Linked DNA regions of Homo sapiens. The protein of the gene in region 1 purifies or fractionates together with the protein of each later gene. This does not show direct contact. Each region holds a gene or a part of one and is shown in the gene's direction. Other genes may lie near its edges.

Region 1 (3,828 bases):
ATTTATAATATACTATTTGTTTCTTACGTTAAATGCTGCATGTATCTCATTGATTTAGAAAAGGTGTTACTACTTTAGTGGAATGTTGAAATTTTTTTTGATTTTTCCATTTTGCTTTAGATGATACAAGATAGTTATTGAATATATGTTTATCCCTTCTAGCTATATTGTATATTTCTCATTGTTTTTCTTTTAAAGTAACTTTTTATTGGTATAGATTAAATGAATTCACTGAGATGTAGGATGTTGCATGCCACCATTGAGTGGTAACTGTGTATTACTTTAGAAGGATAGTCTTTCAGAGAAACCAAAAATACCCCCTTTTTCTATTTTTATTATTAGATTGTATGTTTAGTGTAGAATATCAGTGTGTACTCATTTTTGGGAGGAGTGTGGAGCGAGAGAAAGACTCAACCCTATGAAGTAAGTCATATGGCTAAATAGCATTTCTAGATCACTAATCTACCTCATCTCCTAAACTAAAAATATTGAGTCATTTTCATCTGCCTTTTTTAGATTTTCAAAACCAGTTTTCTCCCCAGGACCCATCAATTTTACTTTCTAAATATCTACAGGATTGATCTTTTCTTCTCCATTCTTCCCTTAGTAATTCAAGGTGGCTGGTTTGGCATTTTATTGTCATTTCATTGATAACTTGAAAAATAAGCTGTAAGGTAGTTACTCCATATTCATTGAATGATAACTATCTTAATTAAAGGAAGCTTTAGCTTCAAATTTTTTTTTATGTTAAAAAAATAAAGTTAGGATTAAAGGCAAACATTTAATAAAAAAGAATTTATTATTTATTTTATTTTATTTTATTTTTTTGAGACAGTTTTGCTCTTGTTGTCCAAGCTGGAGTGCAATGGCGCAATCTTGGCTCACTGCAACCTCTACCCTCCAGGTTCAAGCGATTCTTCTGGCTCAGCCTCCCGAGTAGCTGGGATTACAGACATGTGCCACCACACCCGGCTAATTTTGTATTTTTAGTACATGTTGATCAGGCTGGTTTTGAACTCCTGACCTCAGGTGATCTGCCCGCCTTGGCCTCCCAAAGTCCTGGGATTACAGGCGTGAGCCACTGTGCCTGGCGGAATTTAATTTTTACAATTATTTCTGTCAGTTGTGGTGGTTAATAATTTATTAACCATTTCTTATGTCATTATATGGAAATGGCAGTTCTTCAAAGAATCCAATGCTCTTACTTGAAGTAACCCATGCATCATGGCATGGTATTCAAACATAGGATTTATTTTGAGATTACATTATATTCAACCATTCATTCATTAGCAAATAATTGTCAAAAACAATTTTGTGTCAGGTGCTGTATTTGAGACTAGGGATTCAGCAGTTTTGTATTTTTAGAACATGACCCTGTCTATAAAATTTATGTATTTTATGATACTGTATGAACTACTGAGTGAGTTATTTGAAACACAGTGCCAGTGAGGCCAAACCTCAAGTTAATATGTTGAGTTTTGTAGGGCAAATGTTCAGAGAATTTGAATGCAAAGATATTTTTGAAAGAAGTATTTTAGATACTAGAGGTAAGTTAATATTTATGGATATTAGACATTTTTATAGGAAATTTTAGCAAGTAAAGGTTTTATATTAAAGAAAATAATAAATTTAGCATTATTACTAATGGCTTTTGATATCATGTTGCTAGCTTCCTAAGCTGAAAGACCATAATGTATTCATTAGTAATGTAACCCTTAACAATTTTTAAATGTGAGCTAAAATGGTTGTTTTATATTTTATTTCAAATTAGTGAAGATGCAGAGTTACTGTGGCGTTTGGCACGGGCATCACGTGATGTAGCTCAGCTTAGCAGAACCTCAGAAGAGGAGAAAAAGCTATTGGTGTATGAAGCCCTAGAGTATGCAAAAAGAGCACTAGAAAAAAATGAATCAAGTTTTGCATCTCATAAGGTGAGTTGCTTAACTAAGCTATTAACCATGTACTGAGAGGTACATTTTCTATATTTTTCTATTATCTCTGATTTACATTGGAAGAACAATTTCTCTATTTTAAGTTTTTTTTTCTTTTTATTCAATCTTATATCTTAAGGATAATTTCTCTATTTTAAAGAAGTAGGGAAGATAGTTATTTTTATAAGTTTTTCAAAAAGAAGTCTTTGTTTTTGTAAACATTTGGTCTAACTTCATATGTATTTGATAAATTACTTTTGTGAATGCTTATTTTTAAACAGGAGTTTAGTAATTTCATGAATTACCTATATCTATATTCTTAGTAGTATAAGCACTTCACAGATGTTTTCTCATTTTCCTTACGTTATATTTCTGTTTTATTTAGAGGTAGGAATATAACAGCTAGACAACTGAGACCTAGAATGACTTTTCACATGTAACTTAGCTGCTTTCAGGATTTCTTGTTGGTTCACAACAACGTTTTTCAGTAAATCGTACGGGGAGACGAGGTGGTCATTAGCCTTCTGGATTGTTGGACTTCATAGAACCCAAAGGCAGGGTGAAGTTGGACCTTGGGAAACAATTGGCTTGATTGCTCCGAGGCTTCATTAATTGTTTCTCTACTCTGCTGTTACCTGAAAATCTTTTTCATTGCAGACATTTTTTTTCTCCTTATCCTAAGTCTTGTGACTTTCCACAGCACCTGGGTTTTTGAAGTGTGGCTATTTTAGATTCATTTCTTGGGAAAGAAACTCAGGTCATCTCAGTTTGGGTCTGCCGTCCAACTGTGGCTGTGGAGACAAGGTCACAGTTGACATTGTGGCTGTTCTTACTATAACAATGCAATGTGAGAGTAGATGGAACTCCAAGAAAAGAGAATGAGAAAATAAAACATTCAATTACATATTCTTCTAAATTGATACTCAGACCATAAACATGAACCATTATCTCATTGTGTTGGTAACTTTCTTGGAAAATTCACCACTTTCTACCTTGTATTATAGTTCTCTATAAACATGTCCTATCCCTGAGGTTTTTTTGTTTTGTTTTGTTTTGTTTTAGACATAGTCTCATTCTGTTGTCCAGGCTGGAGTACAGTGGTGTGATCTTGGCTCACTGCAACCTCCATCTCCCGGGTTCAAGTGATTCTTCTGCCTCAGCCTCCCAAGTAGCTGGGATTACAGGCACATGCTACCATGCCCAGCTAATTTTTGTATTTTTAGTAGAGATAAGGTTTCACCATGTTGGCCAGGGCCTCAAACTCCTGACCTCAGGTGATCCATCCACCTCGGCCTCCCAAAGTACTGTTACAGGCGTGAGCCACTGCGCCCAACCCTATTCCTGAGTTTCTAGAGGGCCATGTCCACTTCTCTTTATATATTCCATTACATTTAATACAGTTTTTATGCTCAGTAACTTTTTGTTGGATGAGAATGACTATTGAAGAATATTATACAGTTTTACCTTGTATTGAATGGAATATTAAGAATATTATTGTTCTTACACTTTTTTAAATTTTCAGTGGTATGCAATCTGCCTTAGTGATGTTGGAGATTATGAAGGCATCAAGGCTAAAATTGCAAATGCATATATCATCAAGGAGCATTTTGAGGTACTGATGAATTATTCAAATTCATGAATTTTAAAAGTCATATTTTTCTGAATAGATTTTTGTTTTCATTATCTATTGCTGTATATCAAACCACCTATGATAACAGTGGAGTAGAGCCATGACAGTTTGTTATTTCTTTTTTTTTTTTTTTTTGAGACGGAGTTTCGCTCTTGTCATCCGGGCTAGAGTGCAATGGTGCTATCTCAGCTCACTACAACCTCCGCCTCCCGGGTTCAAGCAATTTTCCTGCCTCAGCCTCCCGAGTAGCTGGGATTACAGGGGCAC
Region 2 (3,828 bases), on another chromosome or scaffold:
AGCCTATTTTTTTTGTTTCCTTTTCCTGGTCCCACATATCTAAGGGATATAATACTTATCAATAATCAATCCTGGGAGGGGTTATTTTGGGGTGGAGCAGAGAAAGGAGGAGGAGATAGGAAATAAATATATAAAAGCCCTTCAGGTGATTGTGATATACTCCGTCCTTGACAATCACTGAGGGGAAGAACATTCCCATTGCTCATGCTTATTTTTTAATAGTAGTGCCCTTTTAAAAATGACATTTTTATATTTTAATTATAAATGTAATAGAATGACTTAAGAAGAAACAACAACAAATAACTTAATTCTATTACCTTTCCACCACTTTTATATTTTTATATTTCCTCTTAACTTTTTTATATGCATGTTATTATATTAAATATTAGATGATTATTATGTGTCTTGCTTTTTCAGTTAACATGTTATATACAGGTTTATACATTATAATGATGTCACTTTAGTGGCTTTATTAATGAATTGATTCATTCATATATTCATTCAATATTGAGCAATGTCTATGTGCCAGATACTCTTCCAGGCTCTGGGGTACAGCAGGCAGCAATATAGACAAGTCCCTATCCTTATTGAGCTTATAGAGTCCGGAGTGGGCACTTACAGAATAAATGAATAAATATATAATGTAGTGCTATTTAGCGATTAATGTTACATAATGACTGGGTTATTGCTTTCAATTAGGGGATTAGGAAAGGTAGCTTTGGCAAAGGTTTGAATAGAGTGAAGCAACAAGCCATATGGCTCTCTGTGAGGGAAATACCTTCCATACAAAGGGGACAGTAAGTGCCAAGGCCCTCAGGAAAAGGATAACGGTGGGAAGTGGTGGTAAGAAAGTAGTCAGGGTCCAGATCATGTAGACTAAGAAAGAGACTTTGATTTTATTCTAAATGTTATGGAAAGGTACAGGAGAGTTTTTATTCTGAGCATTATGGGAAAGTACAGGAGAGTTTTGAGCAGGAAAGTGACATGTGGTCACTTAGATTAAACAAGGAATGTGGCCAGGTACAGTGGCTCATGCTTGCAATCTCTGCACTTTGGGAGGCCAAGGAGGGCAGATCACTTGAGGCCAGGAGTTCAAGACCAGCCTGGCCAACATGGTGAAACCGTGTCTCTACTAAAAATACAAAAATGGCCTGGCACGGTGGCTCACGCCTGTAATTCCAGAACTTTGGGAGGCCGAGGCGGGCGGATCACGAGGTCAGGAGATCGAGACCATCCTGGCTAACATGGTGAAACCCCGTTTCTACTAAAAATACAAAAAAAAAAAAAAAAAAAAAAATTAGCTGGGCCTGGTGGCAGGCACCTGTAGTCCCAGCTACTTGGGAGGCTGAGGCAGGAGAATGGCGTGAACCTGGGAGGCGGAGCTTGCAGTGAGCCGAGATCGCGCTACTGCCCTCGAGCCTGGGAGACAGTGCGAGACTCGTCTCAAAAGAAAAGAAAACAAAACAAAAATTAGCCTGGCGTGGTGGTGGGCACCTGTAATCCCAGCTACTCAGGAGGCTAAGGCAGGAGAATCACTTGAACCCAGGAGGTAGAGGTTGCAGTGAGTGGAGATCGCACCACTGAACTCCAGCCTGGGCGACAGAGCGAGACTCTGTCTCAAAAACAATGACAACAACAACAACAAACAAACAAGGAATGTTCTGGCTGCTGTGTGGAGACAGAGTAAGAGAGGAAACAGGGAAACCAGTTAGGGGATGTTTGCAGTAATAAGAGGCAAGAGATGGTTATGGCATGCAATATGGTAATAGGGAGGAGGTGATGAGAAGTAGCTGGATTTAGAATATGTTTTGAAGGTAGTGCCAAAACGATGGATTAGTTATGGGAATTAAAGAGAGGATCAAGGATGATTCCAAGGCTCTTGGCCTAAGCAATCAGATGATGGTGATGCCAATTATTGGGATAGGGAACAATAAAGGGAGGAACTTTACTTTTCTTTGAATAACTTATTACAGCCTGACATTTTATTTTTGATTGTCTACCCTGTTGGAATGTCTGTTCAAGGGGGGAAGGGATTTTGTTTCTTTTGTTTGCTGCTGTATCCTGGGAACCCAAAGGGTGCCTGGCATATAGTTGGTGCTCAGTAAATATTTGTTGAACGAATAGAAGAATTAAAAAATTGTATCACCAACTGTTAATTATCTGGGAATTAATTAACTGATTTGCAGATTAACTGTCTTAAAAATATGACTTCTTTTTGAGAGAAAATAAAACTAATGAAAATTTCAAAAGCCTCTACATATCAGAAATGTTTTTTATAACTACATATAACTTTATAGTTCTTCTTTCTCTTCATCAGTCAGAAGTGTAATCTAAAATAATTTTTAAAAAGCCTGTCATTCCTCAGTGTTCTTTGTAGTGCTGTCAAAAGTTTGCAGGTTTAAGAATAGTAACTCTAATGATGAAAGCATTATGATCTGAGTGCATGTTATATAAATAAAGCTTAACATTTAGCAAAAAGTTGAAATTGTACATTTGGGTAAAAAGGGGTGGATAATGTTAAATAAGTTTCATTACAATATGGAATAGGAGAATAAATTTTTTTGTGGTTTGATAAAGAGAAACTTGTTTTTAAAAAATGTCCTCATTGAGTTATCAAGCAAACTGGAAAAATGAAAAAATTATGAAGAATCTGTGGCTAATAAGACAATGTTGATTTGGTTCAGTTAGCTAGCAATGGGCTCTGTGTTTGATTTTGTTTGAGTTAAATAGACAACAATTTTCATTGAAGCTCTTCCAGTGGAGGTTATGCTGATTTGTTATCTGATTGATTAGATTCACACCACAGAAAAATTAGTAGCCATAGAGAGAAATTAAATGGGAGTGTAGCATTTGCTAAGTATTCCTGTATTAAATTTCAAGAGTTTGTTAGTTATCATCAGATCAAATATGTAATTCTGAGGAACCTGAGCTCCTGGAAATCTTATCTACTGTAATTTTGAAAATAAAAAATGATATAGGTAAATTATCTTGTGTGGGTTTGAAATATTTTATTTAAAAAGTGGAAAGAAAAGGATATGAATCATAGATCTAACAAACATTTTTTGTCTCATTCCTTCTATTTCCCCATTTTATTCGTTTGTTGTTTATTCTTCCATTGCTTTCTTATGCAAATAGGAGCATATATTATCTTATTTTCTCCTTTTTACAAAATAAATAGTGTTATTGTATAGACTTCTGCAGCTTAGTTTTTTAGTTATACATATATTTTTGAGATTTGTCCATATCAGTATATAGAGGTTTTCCTTATTTTTTTTAAATAGCTACATAGTATTCCATTATGTAAATATATCATGGTTTATTAAACTAGTTCTGTTTCTGGATATTTGGATTATTTCCAGCCTTTTGCCAGAAAAAATAATGCAGGAAGGGATAGCCTTGAATATTGGTCATTTTTTATTGCACATTTCTTTTTTTATTTGTTTTGTTTTTGAGACGGAGTCTTGCTCTGTCTCCCAGAGTGGAATGCAGTGGCGCAATCTCTGCTTACTGCAACCTCCGCCTCCCGGGCTCAAGCGATTCTCCTGCCTCACCCTGGCGAGTAGCTGGGATTACAGGTGCCCATCACCACGCCCGGCTGATTTTTGTAGTTTTAGTAGAGAAGGGATTTCACCATATTGGCCAGGCTGGTTTTGAGCTCCTGACCTCAAATGATCCGACCGCCTTGGCCTCCCAAAGTACTGGGATTACATGCCTGAGCCACTGCGCTAGGCCTATTGTACATTTCGTACTGTATCTATAGGATAGATTCCCACAAGTAAGATTGCTAAGTAAAATGATGAATATATCTGGAATTTGGTAGGTATTACC

The links.
Region 2: the proteins of RMDN1 (region 1) and EXOC6B fractionate together in Homo sapiens (co-fractionation; one large-scale study listed by BioGRID). This does not show direct contact.

The regions. Positions count from the first base shown.
Region 1 is NC_000008.11:86,484,587-86,488,414, reverse strand, and holds part of RMDN1 (regulator of microtubule dynamics protein 1), read left to right. Parts: intron 1-1,771; coding exon 1,772-1,931; intron 1,932-3,453; coding exon 3,454-3,543; intron 3,544-3,828.
Region 2 is NC_000002.12:72,815,781-72,819,608, reverse strand, and holds part of EXOC6B (exocyst complex component 6B), read left to right. Parts: intron 1-3,828. UniProt on the Homo sapiens protein: Component of the exocyst complex involved in the docking of exocytic vesicles with fusion sites on the plasma membrane.